6 separate regions of the Homo sapiens genome follow, and all the other regions are linked to region 3. Evidence: fine-mapped expression QTL. A gene starts in region 3. Each other region holds a variant in brackets. All regions are shown on one strand. Distances are between the middles of the regions.

Region 1 (5,073 bases), 27 kb before region 3:
GAAATTGACCCACCCTGTCTTAAAACTTAAGAAAGTTGCATTTGTTTTATCTGAATTCCTTTCTCAGAAAACCAACCATCAGGGCTCCCAGATATCAAGGAGCTGAAACTCACCAGATCACTGCATTTGGACAAGGAGACACCAGACCCTTCACCCATTATGGCTGCCTCAGTGACCACCAGCTTCCTGTTGACCAACTCCTCTTCCTTATACCTTCCTAATTCCTGTTTACCGGCATGTAGTTACATTGCCTTCCCACTATATAAGCCCCCAATTTTAGTTGGTCAGGGAGATGGATTTGAGACTGAGCTCCCATCTCCATGGCTGCAGTACCCGATTAAAGCCTTCTTCCCTGGCAACACTTGTCTCAGCAGTGATTGGCTTTCTGTGCGGCAAGCAGCAGGACCTAAACCAAATCTCTGGTGTTCTGGTAACATAAACACAGAAGGGTAAGTTAAAAAAACAAAGCCATTTTCTGCCCCTATGCTCAACCAAATCTGCTGCTACTGGCCATGAGGGCCGCCCACTGCACGATTCAAGGATGCCATTCACACCAAGCAACAAAATGGCCCTGCCCGACTCCTCCTCCTCTTTGCCCACCCTCCCACATTAGTAGAAACAATGTCTTCCTATCAGAATCACCAAGTAAAAATATTTTTAATGTTCCTTGGACCAAATTCATATCCTAAATATTCTTATGTTAACCTTGATGTGTTTCAGACAAGTCAAAATGCAATCTACAAATAACTGTTTCAGTGAGATCACTTTTTATTTCTCCTAAAATCCTCATATATTTACATCATCTTACAGAACCACAATGAGCATAAAATTAGCTACTCTCTTCCTATCATTTGTACCAGCTACCCACCAGACACTTTTGAAATGTATCATGTAAACTGAATTTTCCAGTTGCATGCCAGGATAAAAGTCCTTGAACTTGGGGTCACTTGGCAGTCATTTTATCTTTAAACTCACACCTACAGGCACTAGGGAAAAAAGGAAAGGGAAGGAGAGAGGGAGAGAGAGAGGACTCAGATAAGATGATATCATAAAGTTATATAACATGGTGCCGAAATTGTCTCATCCAAAAAATTACTTGAGATTTCTTTTGGCTTTAGGTATGAACCACATATTAGTTACTAGAAAGGGTATCTAGTTTCCACCTAGATTAAAAAACAAACCAAAAACATGTTTCAGGCCAGGTCTGGTGGCTCATGCCGGTAATCCCAGCACTTGAGGAGGGCAAGGTGGGTGGATCACTTGAGGTCAGCAGTTCAAGACCAGCCTGGCCAACATGGTGAAACCCCATTTCTACTAAAAATACAAAAAGTTAGCTGGGCACGGTGGCATGCACCTGTAATCCCAGTCACTCAGGAGGCCGAGGCAGGAGAATCGCTCGAACCCAGGAGCTGGAGGTTGCAGTAAGCCAAGATTGTGCCACTGCACTCAACCCTGGATGACAGAGTGAGACTCCATCTCAAAAAAAAAAAAAAAAAAAAAAAAGAAATGTTTCACTGTCAAGATGACAGGCTGAGAAATTATTTCCCCATAAAAACCTAGCTCCACTTAGTTTAAGAAACAAAACTCAAAAGGCAAAAATCAGAAACTCCTGGATACAAAAATCAGAAATGGGAAAAGAGACACAAGGTACAGAGGATGGAGAGGAAGGAGACTAGGAGTTACTACCCTAACTCGATGAAAGCTAAACACAACCAAGGACCCCTCCCAGGACAGCCCTGGTGAAGTGGAATCACATAGAAAAGCAACAGATGACACTTGACATGAATTACTGTCCAGAAAACTTCATTTTAGAAAATGGCTGTTAAGTACAATTGTATATCACTCAACTGTCAAATCCTAGTCTACTCAAGGTGAGGCTCCTATAACTTCTTTGAAATTTCTAGTAATTATTATCTGAACTGAGTTGCCACTATTAAACCAGGCAGCCACTTAGTCCAACTATTTTTGGGTCCCAAATTTAACACTTAGTGTCTTAGAAGAATTTAATTTTCATAGTCCAAAAAGGTCAGAAGCCTGGTTGATGTAAAACAAGTGGTGTCTATTATTTCTCTCAGGAAGGCAGAAAAACTAGGGCAGGGATTACTGCAGCTACAGAATGACTGTCCTCCACACCTCTCCTTGTTCAGGCGGCTTGGCCTACTCTCCTGACAGTGCAGCCACGGAAAAAGTGCCAAAGCATGCCAACCTCAAACAGAGGTGATGACAGAGAAGCTGAAATCCTGGTTTCCCTGGGGATTTGGCTGGCCAATTTTTAGAAAGCTCTACTCCTAGCTGAAGTGCTTTTATTATTCTCTTTTTCTAAGCAGGAAGAATACAGAAGAACAGGGCCTGGGAACCTAGGAGCACTTCTCTTTACCATTGGTTCAGTAAAATCAGTGTCATTTTGCCTGCGAAAAGCTCTCTAACTGATCCCTGTTTTATCAGACGATAAAACTCTGACGCTGAATGGGAACCTAGAACAGGGATCTATGGCAACTTAGCAAGGATCACTTCTTTTTTGTTTTTTTTTTTTTCTTTTTTGAGACAGGGTCTTACTGTCCTCTAGGCTGGAGTACGGTGGCGTAATCTCAGCTCACCGTAGCCTCTGCCGCCCTGGCTCAAACAATCCTCCCACCTCAGCCTCCCCAACGGCTGCAACTACAGGCATGCACCACCACGCCCAGCTAATTTTTTATTTTTTGTAGAAATGGGGTTTTGCCATGTTGCCCAGGCTGGTCTTCAACTCCTGGGCTCAAGCGATCCTCCCACCTCAACCTCTCAAAGTTTTGGGATTACAGGCATGAGCCACTGCAGTCAGCCAGTAAGGATCACTCTTATCCCTAGTAAAAAGGATCCGTGATACAAAATGGCCACTGAGTCCCTTCTCTCTCCCCAGTCTCTTACACATTCTCATAAACAGTGATTGACTCACTTATTTTCTGCAGAAGACAGAATGGCATGAATGGGACGGAAACGGTTCATATGACT[A/C]CTTGGATATCTCTCATCCTGTGAACCAGTCTAACAAGCAATTACCTTGAGGAATCTGAAAATAAAATCGTGATATGAATTCATGAATCAGGAAAGAACCGTGTACTTGCATAATTAGCCTTCTTTAGAGAATGGGGAAATACATATCTGATACAAGACAATTTTTAAGGTGTAATCCCATCATTTGCAAGTCACTAAGAATAAATGTGAAGGTGACAGTGGGAAAAAAAAGAAAGAGAAAGAGAGATGGGTTGGTATGATCTATTTTTAGCTTACAGTTCAGCTACACATAATATATTAACAAAATTTCTGATACTGCTAAGGTGCATTAATATAGATTAAAGGAAACAAGATAATAAAGGAGATGGACTGAGCTCTTCAAGTCTGTACTAGTAGGAAATGGAATTAAACACAGGCTGTGGGGTTTTATGAAAGTCACAATGGTCATCAGCATATGCAAACCCACTAAATTCTTCACCATATAAACTTTTTGTTACATTTTTATAACAAAAGTTAAAAATATACCCTCACATTTTTGAAAGTATGCTTCTTATGGTTCCTAAGATACCAAAAATAAAATAAAACATTCCTAAAACAGTCCAAAATTAAAAGGAGGCCCATAGGTACTTGCCTATAGGTGTCGCACAGAAAATTTTTTTTATAAAAACAATGTTTCTACTCTTTTATTATTAATCCAACCCCAGAATTTTAAAAGTATGCAAAGTATTATTACACGCCAATAAGCTAATGATAATTCAAACATTATAAATTGCTATACTTTTTTTTTTTTTTGAGGTGGAGTCTCGCTGTCTCCTAGGCTGGAGTGCAGTGGCGCAATCTCGGCTCACCAAAAGCTCCGCCTCCCGGGTTCATGCCATTCTCCTGCCTCAGCCTCCCAAGTAGCTGGGACTACAGGCACCCGCCACCACACCCGGCTAATTTTTTGTATTTTTACTAGAGACGGGGTTTCACCGTGTTAGGCAGGATTGTCTCGATCTCCTGACCTCGTGATGGGCCCACCTCGGCCTCCCAAAGTGCTGGGATTACAGGCGTGAGCCACCGTGCCTGGCCATAAATTGCTATACTTTTTTAGTAACAGGTTAAAAACCCTGGGATCTGAGGGAAAGACCAATTGTTTAACTCCATTCTTCATTCTCAACATGTGTTTCCTACCGCTAATAAATGGAACTCGAGTTTTTCCATGGCCCCACTCAGTTGGAAGAATCCTCTTTCTCGCCTGAACTTCTGTGGCACTCTGTCCAGACTGACTTTTATCATTTATTATAATAAGTGGTATAGCGCACAAACCTGATCCATTTTCTAGACCAAGTTCCCAACGCACAGGCTCTGAGGGGGATTCAGTTGAATCTCCCAGGTGCTTATTCCTTGCTGCAAGGCCTCTGGAAACTCCTGCTTTATGAATCTAGAATCAATGAATAAATATCCTGACAAATAGCTACTTACATGTAAACTCTAGATGTTATCTCATTTCTCTACACTGCATGAGCACTGTGTTGTATCTTTCGGCTAATAATATAGACAAACTAAGTTAATGATTATTCTTGCAAAGATGCAAAGATTTTTTTTAATCTAGTATGAACTAAAAGCCATAATTAATCACCGAGAAGGATAGCCTCAACTTTTTTAAACTGACTGTAAACTGATTACCTAGTGCCACTCGGCTAATACACTGGAACCAGCCCTTGGTAGACAGATGTGCCCTTCCAAACAGATATGCACAGTAGGCCTGGGCTCATCCCAATTTGGAGCTACTCCCAACTACTCGGATCTTTGCCTTGGATCAGCCCAACAAATGAGCATCTTATGGAAGATGAGGCCGCTCACAAACCCACAATGAAATACATGGCTTGGGCCCTCTCTAATGAATTACTCATGAGTCAGGCATGACACCTGAGTCTGGGAGGCTCCTCTCATAAAGTCGGTAGTAACCTTAACATAGAAAGAAGTTATAAATGACTATGCAACCTTACAACTGGCTTCCACCCATAGTCATCGCTACTTCATATGCAAACAGCACCTCTGATATCTCACTCAGATTCTAAAGAAATCTTTGCTAGGGGAAGA
Region 2 (5,072 bases), 89 kb before region 3:
ATGACCACAGCAGCAACTGACATTGAGCGAGCACTTTTTACTGGCTTAATGTTGTTTATGTACCATCTCAGTCTTCACAACAACACCAGAAGGGAGGGACAATTATTATCCTCATTATATACAGAAGAGGAAATTGAGGCTCAGATGCAAGAGGTAGTTTGCCAATGGTCACAGGAAGAAGTGGCTGTGCTGAACTCTGACAGTAGGACTGACTAAACTCATCACTACCAGATATCCTGTGTCAAGGATAGCATGATGTTTAAATTAGGTAACACATACACGAAACATACTGAACACTGTATCTGGCACCTAGTAAGTACTTGACCCTATTACTGTAGTCACGAGAAGATTCTCTAAAGGCTTACTCTTCTAAATACACAAAGAGTTCATACAAGCGCATGTGAGGACATGGCGAGAAGACACCATATGTGAATGAGAAACCCCTCACCAGATACCAAATCTGCTGGTGCCTTGATCTTGGACTTACCAACCTCCCACACTGTGAGAAACAGATTTCTGTTCCTTATAAGCTACCCAGTTACAAGGAATGAAGGGTAGGGTATGGAGCAGCTCCTTGCATGGTGGAGAAGCTGGCTGGACTGCCCTAGGCCAGACTGTCCATGATCAGCTGGCCAAAGCTAGCAGGCAGGGGACTGTCCTCTGGGTGCCAACAAATTCCCTGGGAAGCTATCTTGGGGGGTGAAGGAGCAGGCTGTGCGGAAAGCAGGCTACAGAACTTTCTGGGAAACATGATGAGGCAACAGCTGTGGTCCCTGGAAGGCCACCCACACGGGATGCTGAATTCATGGGGAAGGCAGGTGGAACATCCTTAAAGGGGCTGAGTTGCTGCTGAACTTGCAAGAGACTTACCCAAGGTATGCAGGCTATCGGTAGATTTGGCAACAATCTTCCTGCATAGCCACTAACAAGTCAGCTGGGGTACCCACAGGTATATTCTACCACTAAGCCACATATACTCTTAAGGGGTTTTGGGGATTCAAAGAGTGGTTCCCCAAAACTGTAGGGATGTTGCATTCTTCCTGTGAACAAGGTTTGCTCTTGGCTCAATTACAGAGTTAGCCCTCCTTATCAGTGAGTTTTGCATCCACGGATTCAACCAACTGCAGGTCGAAAAAATTGTTTTTAAACTGCACCTGGGCTGGACGTGGTGGCTCATGCCTGTAATACCAGCACTTTGGGAGGCCGAGGGGTGGGGGCAGATCATTTGAGGTCAGGAGTTCAAGACCAGCCTGGCCAACATGGTGAAACCCCCATTCTCTACTAAAAAGATGAAAATTAGCCAGGGATGGTGGTAGGCACCTGTAATCCCAGCTACCTGGGAGGCTGAGGCAGAAGAATCGCTTGAACCCGAGAGGCAGAGGTTGCAGTGAGCCGAAATCGCACCACTGCACTCCAGCCTGGGCGACAGAGCAAGACCCTGTCTCAAAAAAAAAAAAAAAGAAAGAAAAAGAAAACTAAATTCCATCTGTACTGAACATGTATAGACCTTTTTCTTGTCATTATTCCCTAAACAAAATAGTATAACAACTATTTACATAACATTTGTATTGTATTAGTTATTATAGGTAACCTAGAGATGATTTAAAGTAAGGGAGGAGGCTGGGAGCAGTGGCTCACACCTGTAATCCCAGCACTTTGGGAGGCCGAGGCAGGCAAATCACCTGAGGTCAGGAATTAGAGACCAGCCTGGCCAACCTGGTGGAACCTCGGCTCTACTAAAAAAACAAAAATTAGCGGGGCATCGTGGCACATGCCTGTAATCTCAGCTACTCCAGAAGCTGAGGCAGGAGAATCACTGGAATCCAGGAGGCAGAGGTTTCAGTAAGCCGAGACTGTGCCATTGCACTCCAGCCTGGGCGACAGAGTGAGACTCTGTCTCAGAAAACTAAACTAAAATAAAATAAAGCATCCGGGAGGATGTTCGTAGGTTATGTGCAAATACCATGCCACTGGATATCAGGGACTTGAGCATCCAAAGACTTTGGTACCCATGGGGGTCCTGGAACCAGTGCCCCACAGATATCATTCCTTTTCAAAACGACTCAAACTCATAGGCTCACTTGATAATTGAATATATCCTAAGGTATGGTTCCAACGACAGCTACAAAAACTTACACCATCAAAAATTATGACCCTCTCCTAGAACCGTTTTCATTTTCAGCACACATCTCTGCAACTCTTCAAAATGTAGGAATCCACTGAGTTCTGGGCAATTTAACAATGTAAGGAAATTTCCATTTTCAGGCATTTGTGGAATTCTCAAGTCCGGTTTTGATATTGAATGCTGAAACTTCAATAAAATAAAATAAACAAAAAACAAACAAACAAAAAAACAACATTCATAAACACCCTTCAGCGTCTTGAAGCTTTGGAAACCATTTGTGAAGTCTTAGCAGTCACAGAGTACAATCGGTAGGGTAAATAAACCAGGCCAGTTGGGGCCTCTCAGAGATGCCCTTAAATCAGAAAGCCCTCAGCACCTATCTTCAGTGAGTATTCAT[G/A]GCCTGGTCACTAGGCAACACTAAACAAACTCAGTGTCAGCACTTGGCTTCTTCCACTTCTTCCAAGCATCCTCCAAAGTGGTGATAGTTATAGGCAGAAGGAAGAAAAAAGGCCACACTCTTGATTACTTCTGCGACTCACACAATGGTTCTCAGATTCTCCCAATGAATAACGCCAGGGAAGCCGTGCCAGGCCCACACACTGGGCACGGATGACGGGCGCCTTTCAGTTTTCCTTTCATGGCAGGTGCTCCACCTGGAGCCCATGACCTCAGCTTTTCCTTGTTTAGCCCAACTCCTGGCAGAAGACGATCGTCCTGACAGTAATGTTTGCTTGCTAATTACATAAAGCTTTGTTAAAATTATTTTTTGGTTTGAAAGATAGGAGGGAGAAGGGGATGACTAAATGATCTCAGGTTTGCTAAACCAAGAAGAGCTGCAGTTGGTCCAAGGGCCCCTTGAGGGATCATCAGTCAGGTCTCTTCTAGATCAAAAAGCTGAGGCCTCAGATCACAACGGCCCTTCCAATGCATTTGGTAAACGTTCAACCACAGAAAGCCAAGGGGAAAAAACTGCTACTATTTTTCAAATCTCTACCAGAATTTAGTCTCTTCCCTCACATTACAAGCTTATATAGTTGACCCTTGAACAATCAACACCCCAAGCAGTCAAAAATCCACGTATCATTTCTGACCACCCCCAGAACTTAACTACAAAAAGCCTACTGTTGACTGGAAGCCTTACCAATAATGTAATCAGCTGATTAACAGATATTTTGTGTGTCACATATAGCATGTGCTGTATTCTTACAATAAAATAAGCTAGAAAAAAGAAAATGCTATTGAGACAATCTTGAGAGAGAATATATTTACTATTCATTAAGTGGAAGTAGACCATCATAAAGGTCTTCCTCATCATTGTCTGTTCATTGAGGAGGCTGGGGAGGAGGGGGAAGAGGAGGGGTTGGTCTGGTTGTCTCAGGGGTGGCAGAAGTGGAAGAAAATCCTTCTGTAAGTGGACCGGCACAGTTCAAACTCGTGTGTGTTCAAGGGTCAACTGCATTTCCCTTTCATGACAACCTTTTGTTTGGAGGGTTTTTTGTTTTGTTTTGCTTTCTTTTTTGAGACAGAGTCTCACTCTGTTGCCCAGGCTGGAGTGCAGTGGCATGATCTTGGCTCACTACAACCTCCACCTTCCGGGTTCAAGAGATTCTCCTGCCTCAGACTCCCAAATAGCTGGGATTACAGGCGCGCACCACCATGACTGGCTAATTTTTGTATTTTTAGTAGAGATGGGGTTTTGCCATGTTGGCCAGACTGGTCTCTAACTCCTGTGACCTCAGGTGACCCGCCCACCTTGGCCTCCCAAAGTGCTGGGATTACAGGCGTGAGCCACTGTGCCTGGCCGTTTGGGGGTTTGTTTGTTTTGTTTTGTTTTAAAAATAATTCATACAAATCCAATCCTCTGTAGCATTGTTCCCTACGTCTTCCTCATGCCTGGTTATTTGCAATTCCTCTTCCTCCTGCTTTCTCTGTTTCTAATACCTGCAACAGGAGAGCCCATCTCCCCTCCTCCAAGCCACTCTTCCTCACGGGACGCCCACCTGCTGCAAAAGCGTCAGAGTCTTGGCATCTCCAGAGTCCCTGGGGAGTTTCCTTCCCCAAGTGTCCATTACAACACTGGGATGAGAGGCCAGGTAGAAACTTCAGGAGCATTCCACTTTGAAGTGTGAGGCTCTACCAGACACAAAATAAATATAACTGGGGGCCAGAATAAACATCCAGGGCCAGCAAGTGAACCTGGCTTACGTGGCATGCATTAATATTTGGAGAAATTTCCCCAGCGAGGTTGCAGGAAGCTGAGTCACCTACTAAGAAGGGCTTTATTTTTGGTTCTAAAAGACAGAACAATAGCAAAGTAAAATATTGTTCTATATCAAAGTTCTTTAAACTTACTGTTCTCAGCATCTTCATCAGTCCCAGATTAACCCTGACACTATACAAATTGCAATAACACAAGAACAATAGATGCTTTCTCTAGATTTTGTATGAGATTTCTCTGGAATTTCTAAAAATCCTAGAAAGGGGCCGGGTCCGGTGACCCAGGCCTGTAATCCCAGCACTTTGGGAGGCCAAGGCTGGCAGATCACTTGAGGTCAGGAGTTCGAGGCCAGCCTAGCCAACATGTTGAAACCCCATCTCTACTAAACATACAAAAATTAGCCAGGCGAGGTGGTACACATCTGTAATCCCAGCAACTTGGGAGGCTGAGGCAGGAGAATCGCTTGAACCCGGGAGGCAGAGGTTGCAGAGAGCCGAGATTGTGCCACTGCACTACAGCCCTGGGGACACAGCCAGACTCTGTCTCAAAAAAAAAAAGAAAACACAGAAAGGAACCATGAGGCACCACTTGAAGCTTCAATGAGGTGGTTTTATGATGTTGGGGGTATAGAAAATCATTCCTCAAAATATGGCACCTGAGCACGCTGGGCGCTTTTGAAAGCTGAGCGGCCCCTGAAGTAAGCCTCAGAATGAAGGTCCCTCTAACCTT
Region 3 (5,073 bases):
GTGTAAGTTGGGGAAGATCTCTCGGTGCTCAGCAACTGACAGCAACTTGTCCCGAAGGCGTCGTAAGTGGCGCGGGTCCCTGCAGCTAACAGGCAACACGGGGGAGAGGATCTGCAGCCGGTGGTTGAGCAGGTATTGAAAATGGGCCTTGCGCCGTCGAAGGTTCTTGTCCGAAACGCCATAGTAGGCTGCGTGGGGGCTGGCAGAGCGCAGCTCGAAGTCCCGGGCCAGTGCCTCGTCCACCACCTTGGCCAAGCGGCTCAGTCCCTCCGCGTCGTGCTTCTCCTGCAGGGCGATCTGGCGGTGAATGTCCAGACATTTCTCCTCCAGCTCACGCTCTCCGCACAGGTCTGCGTGGGTGCCCACGATGCACACCACCGCGTGGGGCACTCTCGCCCCGACCCGATGCAAGAAGGAGCCCACGGTGGTAGGAAAGTGGCGAGGCTCATAGGTGGCCAAGTTGACCACCAGCACGTATAGGGCCCCTGGGGACAGGAAGAAGGGCTGGATCACCTCATAACTTTCATCCCCAGCTAAGTCATACACGATGAACCGCAGGCCCCGGGAGGCATCGGCCGTCCAGCTGGTCACCTCGATGCCCTTGCTCACAGGGGGAGGTGACGGTGGGTAGCACTTCTCCTTGTCCCCTCCTCCTGGGCATCCCTCCACTCTCTCCTCGGTGAGGCAGTGGCGCAGCAAAGTCTTTCCTGCAGCCTTATGCCCCATCAGGAGCAGCTTGAGCCGGGGCTGCACCGCCGGCTGGGAATGAGCCAGTTCCTTCTGGTAGGCTGCGATGTAGGGGATCCCCTTCATGCAGACCTCGTAGGGGGGCTGGATCAGTGGGTTGTCTTTGATCTTCCACAAACCCACCCGGGAGAGCTGGCCAAAGTGGTCGGGCAGCACCGCGATCTGGTTCCCCTGCAGCACGAGCTCCTCCAGGCCGGTCAGCTCCACGATGGAGTCCGGCAGGTAGCGGATGCGGTTATTATCCAGCCACAAGGTGAGAAGCCGGCCCAGGCCCGAGATAAGGGATGGCACCGAGGTGAGCTGGTTGCGACTAAGGTAGAGCTCCTCCAGACCAGCCAGGGGCAGCAGCGCGGCAGGGAACTCCTCGAAGAGGTTGGAGGAGAGGTTGAGCATTTTGAGCCGCTGCAGGCAGCTGAACTGGGCGGGCAGAGCCTGCAGCCCGTTGTTGTCTAGCATGAGGCTCTCCAAACTGGCCAGCTCGCAGAAGCCGGCGGGCAGCGTGCCAAGCTCGGCCCCACTCAGCCAGAGGATCTTGAGGGCACGCAGGGCACTGATATCCTCAGGCAGGCCCCGCAGCCGGTTGCTGGACACGTCCAGCTCCTCCAGGGCCACCAGCTGCAGCAGCTGCCGGGGGAAGGCAGTGAGCTGGTTGTGATCCACGTCCAGGGTGCGCAGGCGGGAGAGGCAGGAGAGGGAGTCAGGCAGGTGCGCCAGCCGGTTAAAGCTGACATCCAGCTCCTCCAGGTGAGCGAGAGCGCCCAGCTGGGCGGGCAGGGCGGGCAGCTGGTTGTGGCTGAGGTTGAGCTTCCGCAGCTCCCTCAGAGCACTCACCACCTCCGCGCCCAGGGCGGTCAGCCGGTTGTGGCTCACGTCCAGCTCGGTGAGGTGGTGGCCGAGCTCGGCCACCGCCGGGGGCAGCCGGGCGAAGCGGTTCCTGCGCAGGACCAGGACGCGCAGGCTGCCCAGCGCCGACCCCAGCCCCTCGGGTACCTCCTCCAGGCCGTTGTTCCCCAGGTTCAGTGCCTCAATGTCCCCGAGGTTGGCCGGCAGCACGAGCTGGGGGGAGGCGGGGGACTCGAGCGCGTCGGCCCCGGCCCCGGGGCAGGCCCCGGCGGCGGTAAGCGTGAGCTGGCGCAGGTTGCTCCGCAGCTTCCTGGCACGCAGGGCGGCGTCCCGCCACAGCCTCGCGGTCTTCAGGTTGCCACTGTCCATCCCAGCCATGGCGGGGCCCCGGGCCGACAGCCTCACGCGGACGCGGGAGCCCGCAGCTACATGCCGCGCCGCGCCCCGGGCCCTCCGGCTCCTGCCCCTGCCTGCCCTCCCGCGCTCGGCGGCCGGCGGCCGCGGGTCCTAGCGCAGCCAGCGGCCGAGCGCTGGCGGCTAGGGGGCGGCGGCGACGCGAGCGGCTCCGGGGGACGCCGAGCGCGTGGAGAGCAGCTTGCATTCTCCCTGCGGCCGGGCCATGGGCGCGCCGGGCAGCAGGGCCGCCGCCCGCGCGCCGCGGAGGATGCCTGCTCCTCCTCCCTCTCCGCCCGCCGCGCGGCGCCTCGGGGGGCCCGGCTCCGGCCCCGCTACCCTCGCAGCCGCGGTCCCGCGGCCGGCAGCGGCGTCGCCTCCTCGAGCTCCTGGGGGAGGGCGGCGCTCGGCCCGGCGGCGGGCATGCTGCGGGCGCAGGGCTGGGGCGCAGCCGCGGGGAGGGGGCGGCGGCGCCTCCTTGTCTCCGTTTCCCCGGGCTCGGGCGGGAGCGCGGGCGCCGCGTCCCCGGCGCTGGGAGGGCGCGATTGGGAAGCGGCAGCGCCGCCCGCCGGAGCGGCCCCCACGTGACCGGCGGAGGCGCCGCGTTTTCCCGGCACCGCCCCGGGGGCGGGAGCTGCGGAGGGCGCCGGGTGCGGGGCCGGGGGCGCCTGGCGCGGGGCCGGGTCCGCGCCCCGGACCATGCTGGGCGGGGAGGTCGTCCCAGCGGCGGATGTGGGGCTCCGGGGCCCCCCTGGTGGGTTCGCCCGCGCCTGGCTCTTTGTTGGCCCCCAGTCTCTAAGGATTTCTTTTTCTTGTTCTCTAATGCGTCGGATCCGCCGGCTTCCCTTACTCATCCTTTACCTGCTCCCCTGCCGCTCGCCTTGCATCCACGCCGTAGTGGAACTGGCACAACTCGGGGGCCCTGGGTATCATCATAGAAGCTTAGGACAAGAGTGTGGTTAAACAAAATTAGAACAGGCAACCATTCATTCATTTGGTAAATATTTCCTGAGGCCCTATTTCGTGTTGAACATGGGACAGGAGTAATGCAGGCTGGTCAGAGGAGAATAAAAAATACCAGGCAGCAGTTTCACTTGACTGGAGGCTATGGGCTGATAAGACCCTGAAAACCAGGGTGTGTACCAAGCTGGCTAAGACCGGCTGGACCCGACGTGGTCCTGGATTTGACCTAGGTTTCTCCTAGGCCTCCATTATACGCTCTTTAACATCCTAAGTCACACCAGTGCCATGACAATTCCGGGGACACCCATATTTGAAGTAAAAATGGGTGGCACCACAGTCCCGAAAAATCTCCACACTTTTCCAGGAATTTTCATGAATATTTCACCCCTTGGTTAAAGAAACCCATAAAGGTAGCAGCCCCAAGCCCCGTTGTGAGTGACCCTCTCCACAATCCCTTTTCCTGGGTGTGTACTTTTCCCTTTGCAATAAATCTGCATATTGTCACTATTTTCTGAGTTGTCCTTGAACTCATTCTCTGGATGTGTCAAGAGCCTGGACATTGGCTGGGGTCAAGGTCGCACTGGCTTTAGAGGATCTCCCCCAGCCCACCCGTACCAGAACTACTAAAAGACGGTTTTAACCCCCCTGGGGAAGGCTTTTGAGCAGGTGGCCCGCCAGCCTAAAGGAGGGTTGTTAAGATGGGGGGGACACAAGCTGTTTATCTGGGGTATCCCGTTTATCTTCACAACAACGCTGTGAAACAAATACTGTATCCCCATTAATACAGTACCTGTTGTTCTGCGGACTCAAGAAAACAGCTATTTTGGGAAACAGTCACAGTCCATTGTTCAACTCTAATGCTTATTTTTATTGCTGTTAGGAAATGTTTCTTTGAGCTCACATCTATGCTAAGTCAATAATTTCTCCCGAACTTATGAAAGTCTGGAAACCTACCAAGACTCCCAGTGTCACCTCCATCATTCCCTTCAGGTTGATTGATAAGGAAGCAAATAGTTTTCAGGGACCGAAAACTGCGTTCAGTTGGTTAAAGGCATCACTTGACCCACTGCAGCTCTCCCCGACATGCGCTATGGCTGTCATTTGGGGACCCATATTTGGTGCAGTAACGTGAGAAGTGTGTGTTTCCAAAAAGAGCACCTGAACATCTGAGGCTGGAAATCCACCCCAGTGATGGTTATCAGGCTGCAGGTAGTACATGCTGTAACTGGAGGATGTTCCCCAGTTCTGCTGGGTCCCTGAGGCTCTGACACCACAGATGAAATGTGAGTAAGTGAACAGCAAGAGCTGATCTGTGTTCACTCTGAAGGACTTCCGAGAGTTCAGATGGCTCAGGGTAGCCCCACCCACACTCCCTCCCAGAGACAGTCAATTTTACAACAAATATTCTGAGTTATCTAGGCTGACCCTTTTTTTCCCCCACAGAGGAGGAAATGGGCTCAAAGTAAGTGACTTCTCAATCAGCCATCAAAGTAGAGTAGAGGCAGGACTGCTAACTCCCCGTGTGGAATGTATTCCCCTGTGATCATCACCTGTACTCACACTGTTCTTGAGCCAGACCCCAAATTCTCCATCCTGCAGCTTCTTCTAACAAAAATATGAACTCAGCCTGGGTAAGGAGACTGGAGTAGGCATCACCATCCTACACCACCTTACATGATTATATCTCAATAACTGCTAACTGTTCCTCTTTAGAAGCCATCAGAAAATTATACTTCCTCCTGCAGAAGCTGAAATCAATTGAAAAAAATGAAAATTGTGCTTGCTTCAGCAGCACATATACTAAAATTGGAAAAATACAGAGAGGATTAGCATGGCCCTGCACAAAGATGACATGCAAATTCATGGTGTTCATTTATTTAATAATATTTTCATTTAAAAAATTATTTTAAAAAAGAAAAATGGCCGGACATGGCATCTCATGCCTGTAATCTCAGCACTTTGGGAGGCCGAGGTGGTGGATCAGTTGAGGTTAGGAGCTCAAGACCAGCCTGGCCAACATGTCAAAACCCCATCTCTACTAAAAATACAAAAATTAGCCAGGCATAGTGGTGCGCACCTTTAGTCCCCAGCTACTCAGGAGGCTGAGGCACGAGAGTTGCTCGAAAC
Region 4 (5,060 bases), 130 kb after region 3:
TCAGTTGAAAGTAGTCCCAGTACTTGGTTATGAAATTTTTAGAATTTCTTAAAAATGAAACTTTAGGTGGAGCTAAGCCAAGGAAACCATGAATTTAAAGTATCAGCCTTTCTCATACTGTTTCTTCCCCTCCAACTTAGGTCTGGGTATTTTGTAGGTCTACGTGAAGCTGCAGCCCTGATTTTTGTATATTTTACTTTTATATCCTCAGGATCAGGTAGACAGAGCTGATACCTTCCCTCAGGTACTAAAAAAAGTAATTGACTGGATGAAATTGAAGGAATTAGGAACAAAGTATAAATACTCACTTTTAACAGATGGGTAAGTATTTAGGAAGATTATTTTTTTATATCTACTTTTTAAAGATTAAAGATACCCTTATTTATCTGATTTTTAGAATAACCACAAACTATTATTAGAGACCCTAGAGTCTCACCCCACAGGGAATAGTATTTTTCCTTTCACCTAAGGATGAAAGAGAGGAAGAAAACAGTGGTCACAGTCCAATACAGGACTAGAACACTACAGAAAGTTAAAAATATGTAAAGCTAAAAAGACTTTGCTAAAACTCTGTTTTTTCATGACACTTCCTTACTCAAAAAAGTTCAGACTCTTGAGCTTGGCCTTGAAGCCTCTTTCCTCTCATCCCACGCTACCTGTTTAATCTAATTCACCTGCCATTAATCCTCTTTAGTCAGACTGGCCCAGGAATTCACATGGTTTACCCTTTCTCTGTGTAGTTACTTATGCCTCCCTCTGTACTGAGAGTGTCTTCTCGACAACTTTATCATTTTTCAAAGCCCATCTTGTGTTTTACCCTGACAACGCCATTGATCTTTTTTTTCCTTGAAACCTTATAATTTCTATGGTATATACCATTCATGTTGACATCTGACCATATATTCTGATATATAATCTTTGTGTACATACATAAGACTTACTTTTGCAAGGAAATCTAAAATTCTTTCAGAGAAGGACTTTTGCTGCCTAATAATCTTCCATAATGCTTACCTTAGTGCTGAGCTTAAAGTGTATGCCCAAAAAGCATTTGTTAAATGAAAAGCTAAATGGGAAGATCAGAAAGATTAAAACATAGATGACAGACGTTGTGCCAGGGCAACTCCGATACCTTAAGGCCATTAAGGTTGAAAAGAACGTCCTAAACAACTTCTGTTTCAAACTGTGCAGGTTATCCTCTATACCTGAGATGTCACCAACATAGAGGGTTTGGAGATCCTCACATGTGATAGGAGAAAAGCATTGAATTTAATCACATCATAACTGTTAAGTTTGGAAAAATGTTTATGGACCTCTTTAGAAATCCATTACTGATTTTAAACATGAATGAGCAGTGCTCTGCTAAAGTATACAGGTGTTTCTGCTGTAGTATAGTATACGCAGTTCTGGTAAAGTCTCATTTTGTGGGACAGATCACTCAAAACCTATGCAATTTTGTAACAAGAGCACTAACAAAAACCAATCATTAGAGTCTCCATTAATAATTTGGCAGCCCAGGCAAGCAGCTCAGGGAAGGTGAGGTTGCGTCAAAGTATATGAAAATTGTACAGAAGCACTAGTGTCCTGGGGACATACACTTATTTTTAATTTTCTTATAATATAGTTGACAGTATTATAAGAAAATACAAAGGATTATATCCTGTTCCCAGTATAGCAGCTGAGTTGAGGGCTTTTCTTATTTCCTGCTGAAGTTTATAATTTCCACTGCTATTATTCTGACTCTCCTTGCCTAAGAAAAACCACGTAGGAACCAACACAATTTCCATATTACACAATCAGTATTGTCCTTAACTACAATAAATTGGTTAGTGTTATAGAAAAATGTTGTAGCAGAACAGATTGTATTTTAACCATTTGATACCAGCTGCTTTTGTTTCTTTCATTTTTTTGTTTTTGGTTTTATTTCAAAGCATGCTGTCAACTTACCATGCTAAGTCTGGCAGTAAAAGTAAGCTTAGCATAATACTCAGCAAGATAGAAGCCTGCCCAGAACCATGAAAACAATCAAGATGAGCCTAATAGGAATTAGTTTGTGAACAAAAGTTAATATATCCGACTTCTTTGTTTGGTTTTTAAAGCTTAATTTTGAATTAGTATTTTGTAGGAAGCAAGGTTAATTTTCTCAGCTTGATGTTACATTTGAATATGAGAAAGTTGACATATATAAATAAATGATTTAAAATACTCATTTGTAAGAATAGCATAGCGTTTATTTCATCAATTTTTTGTCCTTTTTTAATTTATAGTTCTTGGGATATGAGTAAGTTCTTGAACATTCAGTGTCAACTCAGCAGGCTCAAATACCCTCCTTTTGCGAAAAAGTGGATCAATATTCGGAAGTCATATGGAAATTTTTACAAGGTAAAATTTCTATATTTAATAATTACGTGGTTCTTAATGATAAATTTGTTAAAATTTGCATGTACGTTAGATTGTAATTTTCCAGGTGTTTTTCATGGAAAAAAGCCATATAATTAGTTCTTACTCTTCAGATTCCAAATTCCTTATGTTCAAATTAGATAAGCCTTTTTCTCATTCAACCTGTTAACTTTATTTAAGTAGGTTAACTATATATACCTGACAAGTTTGAAACTGTAGGGGCAGTCAGTATGTGGATTGTTCATGGAGCAAATGCTCCCCACTAGATTTTAATTTTACTTCACATTTATCAAAGTTAATATGCGTGTGCCGTGTAAATGTTTAAAATATTATTGCAAGACTTACAATGAATGGCAGTCTTCTGCCATAGCCTTCACCAGAACTGGTTCCTGTTCTGAGGCAAACACTTTCAACTTATGTAAAGCTCTGTTTTTGTTTTTGTTTTTGTTTTTTTTCAAATATTTACCTTTGTATTTCTAAGTTTCATGCTTATACTACTTCTTGACTTTTCAGTTTGCG[A/G]TCTATTGAATTCCTGCCCTGAAAGATCAAGATTGAGTTCAATTAAGTTACCACTCCTGCTTGTCCTTCCCTTCCTGCATCTTCCTACTATAGCTCTATTACCTTTCAGTCAGAGCACTCAGTGTTCATACTCCCGTGACTATGGAGAGTGTCCACAACTTTCCCCTGGATGTAATAATTTACTTCCGCGGTTGTTTACTTATCCCCTTACTCTCCATTCAAACTGTAAGTCACTTCTTATGACTGAGAACACTCAGGTAGTCTGTCAGGTTTTCTTTTTTCATCTGTTTTTCCCTTGCAGACTATCTTCCTGGAGCCTTTAATCCTGTTCTAATCTGAACTGTTAGTTCTTCAGGCTTCTTTTAAAATCATCTTAGGGGATTTCCTTTAATTCTCATGCATTAGATACTATGTCATTTTTCTCCCTTTACAGTTTCATTTTGGAGAAGCATGTTCTAAAGTAGTTTCATGAGAAAAGGTGCTTTTCCTTACAGACTCTTCTGTTTTAACAGTCTTTTAAAACTGAGAAGTATGCATGCAGAAAAGTAGAGTTTTGCCGATTGCTATAAAGCAAATACCCTTGTAACTTCCACCCACTTAACTCCCTTCCTTCCTCCTGGAGTTAACCCTAATTCTTCCTTTCATGGTAATCATTTTCTTATTATTCCTTATAGCTTTAGTATTTAAATGTATATCCTTATATTATATAGTTTTGTCTGGCTTTGAGCACGATATAATTAGTATTATACTGGCTATATTATTTGTTTTTTTTGTTTTTTTTTTTTTTTCAATATTATGCTTGAGATCCATCCACGTCTTGTATGTCACTGCAGTTCATTCACTTTATTGCTATTAATTCCATTGTGTGACTATACCAGATTTGTTTATCTGTTCTACTTTGGCTGGCCATTTGGATTGTTTTTATTTGGGGCTTCCATGAAGAGTACTTTTATAAGCATTGTTGTGCATGTCCCCTGGTGTCTGTGCACTCGTTTTTCTAAGAAAAACCTAAGAGTGCAGTTGCTGGGTCATGGGATATGTACATCATTGACATTACTAGATAATACAAAAATAGTTTTCCAATGGAATTGTACCAGTTTGCACTCTTATCAGTGCTATGTGAGTTTATAGTTACTGTAAGTTTTTGCTAGCATCTGATATTGTCATACATTTTAAATGTTTTGTAAATCTGACGGGTGTGTGATACCATCTCATTGAGGTATCAGCTATCTGGATTGCTTTTTTGCGAACCCCTTATTTAAATTTCTGACTGTTTTAAAAAAAATTGGGTAGTCTGTTTTTTCATTACCTGTGTATTTTACTGGTCTATAGATTTTTACTTTGGGTGCTAGTCCTTTGATTATATTTGATAATCTTTTTGTGTGAATTTATTTTGTTTTTTGGTTTATTTGTCTTTGAGATGAAGTCTCATTCTGTTGCCCAGGTTGGAGTGCGGTAGTGCGATCTTGGCTCACTGCAACCCTGTCTCTTGGGTTCAAGCAGTTCTCCTGTCTCAGCATCCCGAGTAGCTGGGACTACGGGCGCCCACAACCACAACTGGCTAATTTTTGTATTTTCAGTAGAGACGGGGTTTCGCCATGTTGGTGAGGCTGGTCTCGAACTCCTGGACTCAAATGATCTGCCCGCCTCGGCCTCCCAAAGTGCTGGGATTATAGGCGTGAGCCACTGCACCTGGCCTTTTGTGGATCTTTTTTTGTGTTTTTGAACTCATTTTGTGAATTTTTTTAAAAATTGTGTTATGGAAAATTTCAAACATAACAGAAATAGGTATGAGTCCTCATGACCCAGGTTCAACAATTAGAAACTCATGGCCAGTCATGTTTCATGTGTATCCCCACCCACTTTCCTCTTCCTTATTATTTTGAGGCAGAAGTCAGACATTATGTTATCTGATCTGTAAAAATTTCATTACGTAGCTCCAAAAGCTAAGGGTCATTTTCTTAGAAACACAGCTACCATACCATTGTGACATCTTAAAAAATTAGCAGTAATTCCTTCATCAAATAGTCATAAATATTTTCTTTTACCTTTTGTGTGTTGAGTCAGATCAGGATAAGGTTCACAGATTTGTAGTTGGTTAATATGTCTCTTAAGTTTTTTAGTCTTTGATATGTTTGGTATGT
Region 5 (5,061 bases), 140 kb after region 3:
ATGCTTCATATGCTCTGACATTGACATAGTGGATTTCTGCTGATTTTTTTCAAATCCGCAATCTTTATAACCAACTGAAGTATATAATAGAGCATTACATTTTATCTTTATTTGTGTTCTGTTGGATCAAGTATTTAACATTTGCTCTGAAAAAAATGTTTTTGTGATGTGTCTTTGTTGCCTTGAGATAGATCCATTTATCCTGCCTCCTAGGGAGAAGTTTCTGCCTGGATTGAAACAAAAAAACACAGGCGTCACAAGCATGTTACCTATTAAGAGAGAGAGGGTATCTCTGAAGACTAATTAAAATGGTAATTTTTAAAAAGATGTGACCAGTTGACTTTTAGTATATCATCCCAAGTATTATCCCCAAAATGATAATGCAAAACAGAATAATTTGGAGACCAGGAGAAAAACTGGTATGATTACTGGGGAGGGGAAGAAGCACAGGTGGTCAAGATAATAATGCATGTTTGGCCTCAGCTGTAGTTGCCAAAGAAACTACCTGCCTCACAGATGAGCACGCACGGGTGCATTGTCAAAGTCTGAGAAGGATGTATTGTACTTTGAAGGAAGACTTTCCATTTCTAAGCTACCATGGAGAAGTATATGCTCCTCGAGACCAGAGACTGTGACTTCTGCATCTTTGATTCCAGCGACATATGATAAAATGTTTTGCACATAGTTGAATCCAGCGTTGATACATGAAGGACAGCATTACATCTTTTTTCTATTATACTTAGAAATTTCCTCTTTGTTCTGCACCACCAACCTGTATATCAAGCCTCCTTGCCCCACAAAGCTTCCAAAGCCCGTAAATTTGTTAATCTAGAGCAGGGGTCAGCAAACTACCACCCATGGGCCAAATCTGGCTGCTGCCTATTTTTGTATGGCCTACAAACTATGGTTTTTATATTCCCTTTTGTTAATGGCTCAAAATAATATTTTGTATAATACGAAAATTACGAAATTTTAGTTTCTCTAAATAAAGTTTTGGAAAGAACTACCATTCTCATTTGTTTTCATGTCATCTCTGACCACTTTTGTGCTACAATGGCAGAGTTGAATAGCTGCATCAGTGGCACCATCTGGCCAGCAAGGCCAAAAAATACTACTGTCTGGCCCTTTATGGAGAAAGTTTGCCTACCCTTACCTCCCTTATGTAATGCAATATATAAGTTCCATCAACAAACAAGAAATGCGACTGTGATGAGAGCGTAGAGCTGAATGTTAAGGTACAATGATACTTGCATCAGACATTTATGGAGCACTGTTAAGTACTTTACTCCATTGTTTAGTAAGAATCTGGTGATGGAGAGAGGCATTCTCTGCAGTTTACAGATGGGAAAGTTGAGGTCCAGAGCGGTTAAGTTGCCAAAGTTTAAGTAGTGGGAGCTGTAGATTCTGGCAGTATGGCTTGAGCCTTGCTCTTTATCTCTGTGCTATGCTGCCTCCCGTTGTAGACTTTGGCTTAACCTGATATTCCAGGAACAGGTAGGTTGTCCTAGGTAGAATAAACATCTTCCTGTATGGTTTAAACTAGACATTTTCAATGCGATTGTACTAAATGTTGCAAATCAGGAGGTAATTTGATGTTCATTCTTTGAATGAAACAATATAAAATACTGTTAACTTCTAATGTGACCAGCTGTAAGGTTTTTTCGGAGATGGGGATAAGTGGAGAAGGAGAACGATTTTTGCTTTAAAATTTCCTCCATGTTCTTGAGATTAGAAATGTTAGTGTCTTGAGTTTATAATGACACAGAGGCTAAAGGGCTTAAGTTTGACTGATGAAGAGTTGGAAGTACTTGTTTTTCTGGATTCCTTACCAAGACTTGGGTAAGGGGCGGATGCCCGAGGCTTTAAACCAGATCTGCTTTTCTACTTGCAAGTGAATGTTCTCAAGGTAAATTTCATTAGATTTGTTTTAGGATGAATACTGCTCAATCATTGTGGAGCCACAAGGCATGCTTCATTTTATTGCACTTCTCTTTATGTGCTTCGCAGATACTATTTTGTTTTGTTTTGTTTTTTAACATACTGAAAGTTTGTGTGAATCCTGTGTGGAGAAAGTCTATTTATGTCATTTTCCCAACAGCATACTTTCACTTCATGTCTCATATTTTGGTAATTCTCCCTATATTTCAAACTTTTTGATTATTATTATCTCTCTTAGGGTGATTTGTAATCAGTGACTTTTGATGTTACTATCATGGTGGTTTTGGGGCACCACAGACCACACCCATATAAGACAACGAACTTAATTGATAAATGTCTGTGTTTTCCCCATCGCTCCCTCTCCAGACCTACCTATTCCCTGAGACACAATATTGAAATTAGGGCAATTAATAAGCCTACAGTGGCCTCTAAGTGTTCAGGTGAAAGGAAGAGTCACATGTCTTCCACTTTAAATCAAAAACTAGAAATGATTAATCTTAAAGAGGAAGGCATGTCAAAAGCTAAGACGGGCTGAAAGCTATGCCTTTTGATCCAAATTAGCAAAGTTGTAAACCCAAAGGAAAAGTTGTTGAAGGAAATTAAAAGTGCTGCTCCAGTGAGCACACAAGTGATAAGAAAGCAAAACAGCCTTATTACTGATATGGAGAAAGTTTTAGTGGTGTGGATAAAAAATCAAACTGCAACATTTCCTTAAGCCAAAGCCTAATCTAGAGCAAGACTGTAACTGTCTCATATTCTGTGAGGGTTGAGGGAGGTAAGGAAGCTGCAGAAGAAAAATTTGAAGCCAGCAGA[G/T]ATTGGTCCATGAAATTTAAAGAAAGAAGCTGTCTCCATAAAACAGTGCAAGGTAAAGCAGCAAGTGCTGATGTAGAAATTATAGCAAGTTATCTAGCTAAGATCTAGCTAAGTTATCTAGCTAAGATCTAGCTAAGATAACTAATGAAGGTGGCCACACCATACAACAGGTTTTCAATGTAGATGAAATAGCCTATTCGAAGAAGATAACATCTAGGACTTTGATAGCTGGAGAGAAGTCAGTGCTTGGCTTCAAAGCTTCAAAGGACAGGCTGATTGTTGTTAAGGGCTAATGTAGCTGGTTTAAGTTGAAGTCAGTGTTCATTAACCATTCTGAAAATCCTAGGGCCCTTATGCTAAATCTACTCTGCCTGTGCTCTATAAAGGGAACGGCAAAGCCTGAATGACAGCACATCTGTTTACTACATCATTTACTGAATATTTGAAGCCTGCTGTTGAGACTTAGTGCTCAGGAAAAAAAAAAATCTGTTCAAAATATGACTGCTCATTGACAATGCATCTGGTCATCCAGGAGTTCTGATGGAGTTGTATAAGGAGATTAATGTTGGTTTTAATGCCTACAAACACAATATCCATTCCACAGCCCATGGATCAAGTAGTAGTTCTGGCTTTCAAGTCTTACTATTTAATAAATACATTTCATAAGGCTGTAGTTAGCATAGGTAGTGATTCGTCTGATGGATCTAGGCAAAGTCAGTTGAAAACCTTCTGGAAAGGATTCACCATTCTATTCTGAATGCCATTACAAGCATTTGTGATTCGTGAGAGGAGGTAAAGATATCAACCTTAACAGGAATTTGCAAGAAGTTGATTTCAGTCCTCATGGATGACTTTTAGGGGCCCAAGACTTCAGTGGAAGAAGTCACTGCTGATGTGGTGGAAATACCAAGAGAACTAGAAGTGAAGATGTGACTGAATTGCTGCAGCCTCATGATAAAACTTGAGGAATTACTTCTTACAGATAAGCAAAGAAAGTGATTTCTTGAGATGGAATCTATTCCTGGTGAAGATGCTGTAAACATTCTTGAAATGACAGCAAAGGATTTAGAATATTACATAAGCTTAATTGATAAACCAGTGGCGTGGTTTGAGAGGATTGCCTCTAATTTTGAAAGAAGGTCTGTGGATAGAATGCTATCAAACAGCATGATAAAGAGAAATCTTTTGTGAAAGCACAAATATCAGTTGATGGAGCAAACTTCATTGTTGTCTCATTTTGAGAAACTGCCACAGCCACTCCAATCTTCATCACCTACCACCCTGATCACTCAGTAGCCCTCAACGTTTGAGGCAAGATCCTACACCAGCAAAAAGATTATGGCTTGCTGAACACTCATGATTGTTACCTTTTTCTAGAAATTTAATCTTTAAGGTATATATGTATTTTTTAGACATAATGCTTTTGCACACTTCATAGACTATTGTTTAAATTTAACTTTTATATGCACTGGGGAGCCAAAACATTTGTGTGAGTTGCTTCATTGTGATACTCCCTTTATTGCAGTGGTCTGGAACTGAACCTGCAGTATCTCTGAGGTATGCCTGTATATAGTATGATCAAGAGCAAGTTTAGAATACAAGTCATTTTTTTTTTCTATTGAGTAAAAGAACAAAAGAGGAGCAAGGTTGTGATTTTCTGTTTGCTAATGTAGTGTGGCACACCATCACTGGTGATGGCAGATTGATGGAGGGCAGCGATTGAGCCTTCCCCTTGAAGTGTCCATTCTTGCTTGCCGACTCTGCACCTTTGAACATAGACCTGTTTTCCCTTTGGATTTATTTTTGTCAGTGGGACCATGATTATCACAGTCACATAGGATTGAAACCATGAAACTCATAGTCCCTCCCTCCCCCTTTTAGCACAATGTCCTTTATTGTCCAGTCACTTTATCCTCACCCCAGCCTCTGTTATCATCATTGCTACACAGACTATTGCTAAAATTTAACAGACTTCTCTCTTGCTGTCTCTTCCTGTATACCACTGTCATAAAAAACCTTCCTAAAATGTTGCTTTGCACACTGATCTCAGAAACCTTCACATTTCTGATGGGATAAAACTCAGCTCTCTGTTGGCATATAAGAACCTTCACAGTCTGATTTCTGTCTGCCAACTTTTACAGTAACCATCTGCTCTAGGGTAATAGTTACTCCCCTCACCATCACACTCGCGTTGAGTCGCATGTGCACCATCCTACTTCTGTCCCCAGGAAGTTAGCCCATCAGTCTTATTCTCTTGATTCTGTTTTGTTAAAGACCTGCTGTGATTTCAGCCTTCTTCCCAGACAGCCC
Region 6 (5,060 bases), 72 kb before region 3:
AGAATATCCAAGAATTGGCCGGGTGCGGTGGCTCACGCCTGTAATCCCAGCACTTTGGGAGGCCGAGGTGGGCGGATCACGAGGTCAGGAGATCGAGACCATCCTGGCTAACAGGGTGAAACCCCATCTCTACTAAAAACACAAAAAATTAGCCGGGCATGGTGGCGGGTGCCTGCAGTCCCAGCTACTCGGGAGGCTGAGGCAGGAGAATGGCGTGAATCGGGAGGCGGAGCTTGCAGTGAGCCAAGATCACGCCACTGCACTCCAGCCTAGGCGACAGAGCAAGACTCCAACTCAAAACAAAAAAAAAAAAAAAAAAGAATATCCAAGAATCTGGCCAAAGTGGCTGCCTCCAGAAAGGGAAATACATGGCTGTGGACAGAACAGACAACTTCCTTTTCCCCAAAGAGCCTTTTGTACCTTTTGAGTCACCCAGGCTGGAGTGTGGTGGTATGATCACAGCTCATTGCAGCCTCAGCCTCCCAGGCTCAAGCAATCCTTCTGCCTCAGCCTCCCGAGTTTCTGAGACCACAGGTGCGCACCACCATGCCCAGCTGACTTTTTCTATTTTTGATAGAGACGGGGTCTTTACATTACCCAGGCTGGTCTCAAACTCCTGAGTTCAAACTATCCTCCCGCCTCGGCCTCCCAAAGTGTTGGGACTGCAGGCATGAGCCACCACACCCAGTCTATACAGACTATCTATGAAACACAAAACTTAAAATAAACAATCCCAGTGTAAATTTAGTTTTTGTTCTGATTTTTCCCCCAGAACAGCTCTCTCACATTTAAAAAGTCTTTCTCTAAATTTATTTAATTACAAAAATTAACAGTGCTGGTTTGAATAAGGAAATAAATATAAAGATGTGCAAAGAAAAGAATATAATCCTTTCCCTTACTCCCCCTTCCCAAGTCCCCAGAGTTAGACTGCTATGCTCCCCCTTCCCAAGTCCCCAGGGTTGGGACTGCTGTGCTCCCCCTTCTCAAGTCCCCAGGATTAGACTGCTGTGTGCCCTTCCCTACACCTTTTTCCAAAAGCGCATGCACACATCAGGAATTTTTTGTGTTGATTTCTTTTCTTCCAAGCAGAATCAAGCCATAAGCATAACTGCAACATTCTCTTCTTTCATCTGACAGTCAGGTTAGCGTGAGAATGGTATTTGGTCCCAATTCCTTTATTCACTTGATCTCAATGTCTTTCTCTTCCCCACCCTGCCCCTCCACCCGTGCTCACCCAAACAATTTTACGTAAGTAGACTAATATCATGAATTTTTTTTTCATGGAATCCCCCATTGCCTAATCAATCTCCTTGCATCCCCTTGAGGAAATGAGGCTACACGTCCATGTTCCCATCCTGTGGTCTTTCAGAGGCCCTCTCACTTGGGGCTGGCTCCCGCTCTGAGATTATCTCTAGTCAGGATGGGAAAAACTCCAGGGGTGCCCCGGGAAAATCTCTAGCCGTCTGGCCAGGCAGTTAAAGGTGGCCTTGACCAAGTGCGAAGCATGATTCCAGGCCAAAGCTGTGCTGCCATTTGCATCGTGGAATTAAATGATCTAAGTGGAGAGCCACTGGATGCTTTGAACAAACCCACATCACACATTTAATGAAGAAAAAATAGCAGCAGTGAGAGAGAGAAGCTCTCAAGCAAGACCTGGCAATGCTTCTAATTTCACTGTCCTTCCTACCCCTCTTCCTTTAAAAGCCAACAGAGATGACAGCCTACGTGAGTCAGCACAGGGAAGTGGGGAGGCCTCTGGGTCTCAGTTCCACATATCTTCCCCCTGCCTGTTCCCAGGGGTCTGCAGGTCCAACGGCCACTCCCTGCGAGTCCTTGGGTGTCAGAGGGAGCAGCTGCCAGGTGGAAACGGAATGAACTGCCTGCCTGAACTGCCTGCCGGGGGATTAGCAGCTTCTGTGCAAAGCTTACAGGATGCCTCTAAGGCCCCTGTGGCAGGAGGTCAAAGAATCTTAACAAGGAGGTGGGAAGTGGAAATAGAAGGTCACTTACTACTAAGCCTATTTCCACCCTGCATTTTTGGTTCTTGGATTTCATCACGCCGAATTTTACAGAATGCAAGTAAGTATGTACAAAGATCGAAGATCGGCATGGAGAATAGCATGAAGCAGTAACCTCCCTCCCAAATTTGCTTACAACTCTTATGTCCATACAAAGTTGTTATTAATGCCACAGGTTATGAAAATACCAGTCAATCATCACTGATTAATCACACTTTGATTTATGCCAGAACTTCACATTTTCTTAAAAGGTGGGGGGTGCTTTTTAAATATCGCACAAAAAAGCCAGCAGTGTTTAAATCTTCCTTTGATGTTGCTACACAGACTTGATGTATATTAAATCCTCCTCTGCCTCCAAGCATGCAAAGATGTTAGCAGATACTACGCAGGTTTTCCATCAAGGTTTTAATAAAATCCTATTGCTATCAAACCTAGTCTAGGTGCCTAATAGTAACTTTTCCAACTATGTGCAAAAGACAGCTGGGTTTA[G/C]TCACCGTAGGAGCATGTGGACATCTGAGGAAATCACTGATTAACTGTGGATAAGCCCGCGTCAAAAGGAGAACAGCGCAGCGCTGGCTTTGGGGTCTGGCTCCAGCTCTGCCATCTCCTAGCAGCGGGTCGCTCGACAAATGGCTCTGACAGCTCTAGGCCTGAGTGCACACGTCTAAGGGCAAGGTCACCGCATGCCTCGTAAGACTGTGGTGAAGCCTGCACGAGATGCTATACGCAAGTGTGTAGCATGAGGCCTTGAGACCCTGGCCACACACAAGACGAGGACTCTCCACCCGGCCACGGGCAGCCAATTCCTCTGTGCGGCAGCACCAGGCAGGCTGAGAGGAGCTGAAGCAGGCAGATCAGACAGCTCCCTGGGGATTTGAAATTGGGGTGAGAGATAGAATTAGTCTGTGGTGGGGGACTGAAGCCAAGAGAGGCTGGGGCGGTCATTTGCATCGTGCGCAGCTGCAGAGCAAGCTGGTCTGAGGGGAGAGGAAAATGGAGCGAGTCCTCAGGGAGAGGGTGAGATGGCACTGAGACGTGACCATGCCTGATGCAGAGGGACAGAGATGGGGGCAGGGGATGGAGCGGGAGACAGGGGACCACGCCAGGGGCACTGAGATGGGGACAGGGACCAAGTCAGGGGGGATTGAGATGGAGACAGGGACCCAAGTCAGGGGGACTGAGATGGGGACAGGGATCACGTCAGGGGGATTGAGATGGAGACAGTGACCCAAGTCAGGGGGCCTGAGGTGAGGACAGGGACCAAATCAGGGGGAATGAGATGGAGACAGGGACCCAAGTCAGGGGGACTGAGATGGAGACAGGGACCCAAGTCAGGGGGACTGAGACGGGGACAGGGACCAAGTCAGGGGGACTGAGATGGGGGCAGGGACCAAGTCAGGGAGACTGAGATGAGGACAGGGAACCAAGTCAGGGGGACTGAGATGGTGACAGGGAACCAAGCCAGGGGGATTTAGAAGGGGACAGGGACCAAGTCAGGGGGACTGACACAGGGACAGGAACCAAGTCAGGGGGACTGAGACGGGCACAGGGACCAAGTCAGGGAAACTGAGAAGGGGTTGGAATGACTGAAAACCAGAAAATCAGGACAGGAGGTACCGACAGGCTGGTGGCGGGAAGGGAGGGTAACAGAGCCAGGCATGGGATCCCGCACAGAGGACACAGACAGAAGACCGGGAAGGAGAGACAGAGGGACACAGGACAGTCTCGAATTCTAGTCCATACAGAGATTCTCTTCCCCATCCTTGGAATCTGGGGATAGCTCTCCTCCTGCCAGAATCCTGACTTTCCTTTCAAATTAGCTCAAGAGCTCTGACTAGAACACAGTAACTACAAACGGTTTTTCTCAGGGGTATCCATTTTTCTCATTAACTGTAAATGTTTATTTGCAAGTTACTATGTGGCTCTAACAAATTATTATAAAAACAGCTTCTGAAGCCTTGCTTTCAGATGAATAATGTTTCTCTCTGTATCCAGAGAAATGTACTGTGAAGGCCCGGTGGGCATCGCTGCCAGAACAAAAAGAGTAAGGAGCTGGACACGGGGCCCCGCGCTCCGATCCTGGTGCTGCGCTAACTCCCTGCAAGTTCCCGAAACACCGTGAGTCCTCTGGGCCTCGTCCCTTCTACTGCAAAAGGAAGAGACTGAACTGGTTTATCTCTAGGGTCTCTTCGAGCTTTAAATAGTCTGTTCCAGCTTAAAATACTGTAAAAATATATTTTCTACTTAATTTTCTAGGCTTCATAAAACTCCTCACAAATTTAGCATGAAGTAGAACAATCGCCTAAATAGGGCACACAAACATGTCCTTGGTTCTCCCAGGCCACCACTTCCCTAATTCTCCCGTCTTCAGTCTTTGACACAGGTAATGAACCCACAGGTCACCGAGAAGAGCATCACCTGCGAAATTTCAAGACCCACGGTGGCTGTGCTCCATCTCTGATGTAGCACAGAAGATAGTGGGGGCTGAGAAAAGAAAGAATCTCGCCTCTCAGAGATGTGCCTGTCTCCATGCGCTTCAAAGATCTTAGCCACGTCGTGCATAATGTATGAGTGAGCGCTCACAGAAAAGGCCTGTTACGCAGTTCTCTATCACAGCAGATTTCCCTACAGGGAAGAAAACAACGGGAAATCATATAAAAATAGGAGAGATTTAATTTTGTGCTTAAATAAACATGCTTTTCATTCCCTACTTAGCAAAAACAGTTCCCCCTAGGAGCTCAGGCTACCTGCCTGTGAGGCAGAACTAAATCTATGCATCCGTACAGCTCTTTTGTCTGACACCTGACCAGTGGGGTCCTCTATGCTCCCTTGAGAAGAAGCCAGTAAACAGACAGGCAAACTCCATAAATAAGGCCACCTTCTCAGGGGCTCTGCGGGGAGCAGGATGCCTGGAGGCCAATCTCTCCTCACCTTCCATCATCTAAGCATCTCACATCTTGCATCTTCTTAAGCATCTTAAGAAATACAGGACTGCCTCCCTCCAAGCACACAGGGTACCCCGGAGTCCTTACCCACTCCAGC

The links. PIP is the estimated chance that this variant, and not a neighbour inherited with it, causes the effect.
Region 1: its variant is the best candidate, but not a certain one, in a credible set for the expression of MFHAS1 in whole blood (INTERVAL, PIP 0.56).
Region 2: its variant is the best candidate, but not a certain one, in a credible set for the expression of MFHAS1 in skeletal muscle (GTEx, PIP 0.90).
Region 4: its variant is the best candidate, but not a certain one, in a credible set for the expression of MFHAS1 in whole blood (INTERVAL, PIP 0.79).
Region 5: its variant is the best candidate, but not a certain one, in a credible set for the expression of MFHAS1 in whole blood (TOPMed, PIP 0.80).
Region 6: its variant is the best candidate, but not a certain one, in a credible set for the expression of MFHAS1 in monocytes (TOPMed, PIP 0.73).

What each region holds. Positions count from the first base shown.
Region 1 is chr8:8,863,798-8,868,870 of GRCh38, forward strand. All of the region lies in intron 1 of MFHAS1 (multifunctional ROCO family signaling regulator 1), which reads right to left. Among named protein-coding and RNA genes, the nearest start is that of MFHAS1, 27 kb to the right of the region's middle. RefSeq lists a silencer at 4,682-4,976. The variant A/C (reference allele first, on the strand shown) is at 2,989.
Region 2 is chr8:8,802,072-8,807,143 of GRCh38, forward strand. The region is part of intron 1 of MFHAS1 (multifunctional ROCO family signaling regulator 1); the gene reads right to left. Among named protein-coding and RNA genes, the nearest start is that of MFHAS1, 89 kb to the right of the region's middle. The variant G/A (reference allele first, on the strand shown) is at 2,523.
Region 3 is chr8:8,891,091-8,896,163 of GRCh38, forward strand. It overlaps MFHAS1 (multifunctional ROCO family signaling regulator 1), which reads right to left and starts at 2,540. Exons shown (of 3, transcript NM_004225.3): 1 at 1-2,540. The coding sequence starts at 1,968. It also overlaps the pseudogene RNU6-682P. RefSeq lists enhancers at 1-960, 961-1,921 and silencers at 1,766-2,035, 2,146-2,425, 2,436-2,685.
Region 4 is chr8:9,018,086-9,023,145 of GRCh38, forward strand. It overlaps ERI1 (exoribonuclease 1), which reads left to right. Exons shown (of 7, transcript NM_153332.4): 5 at 212-321; 6 at 2,265-2,379. Among named protein-coding and RNA genes, the nearest start is that of ERI1, 18 kb to the left of the region's middle. The variant A/G (reference allele first, on the strand shown) is at 2,917.
Region 5 is chr8:9,032,336-9,037,396 of GRCh38, forward strand. ERI1 (exoribonuclease 1) reads left to right here. Exons shown (of 7, transcript NM_153332.4): 7 at 1-1,003. Among named protein-coding and RNA genes, the nearest start is that of MIR4660, 14 kb to the right of the region's middle. The variant G/T (reference allele first, on the strand shown) is at 2,752.
Region 6 is chr8:8,819,308-8,824,367 of GRCh38, forward strand. The region is part of intron 1 of MFHAS1 (multifunctional ROCO family signaling regulator 1); the gene reads right to left. Among named protein-coding and RNA genes, the nearest start is that of MFHAS1, 72 kb to the right of the region's middle. RefSeq lists an enhancer at 2,402-2,944. The variant G/C (reference allele first, on the strand shown) is at 2,508.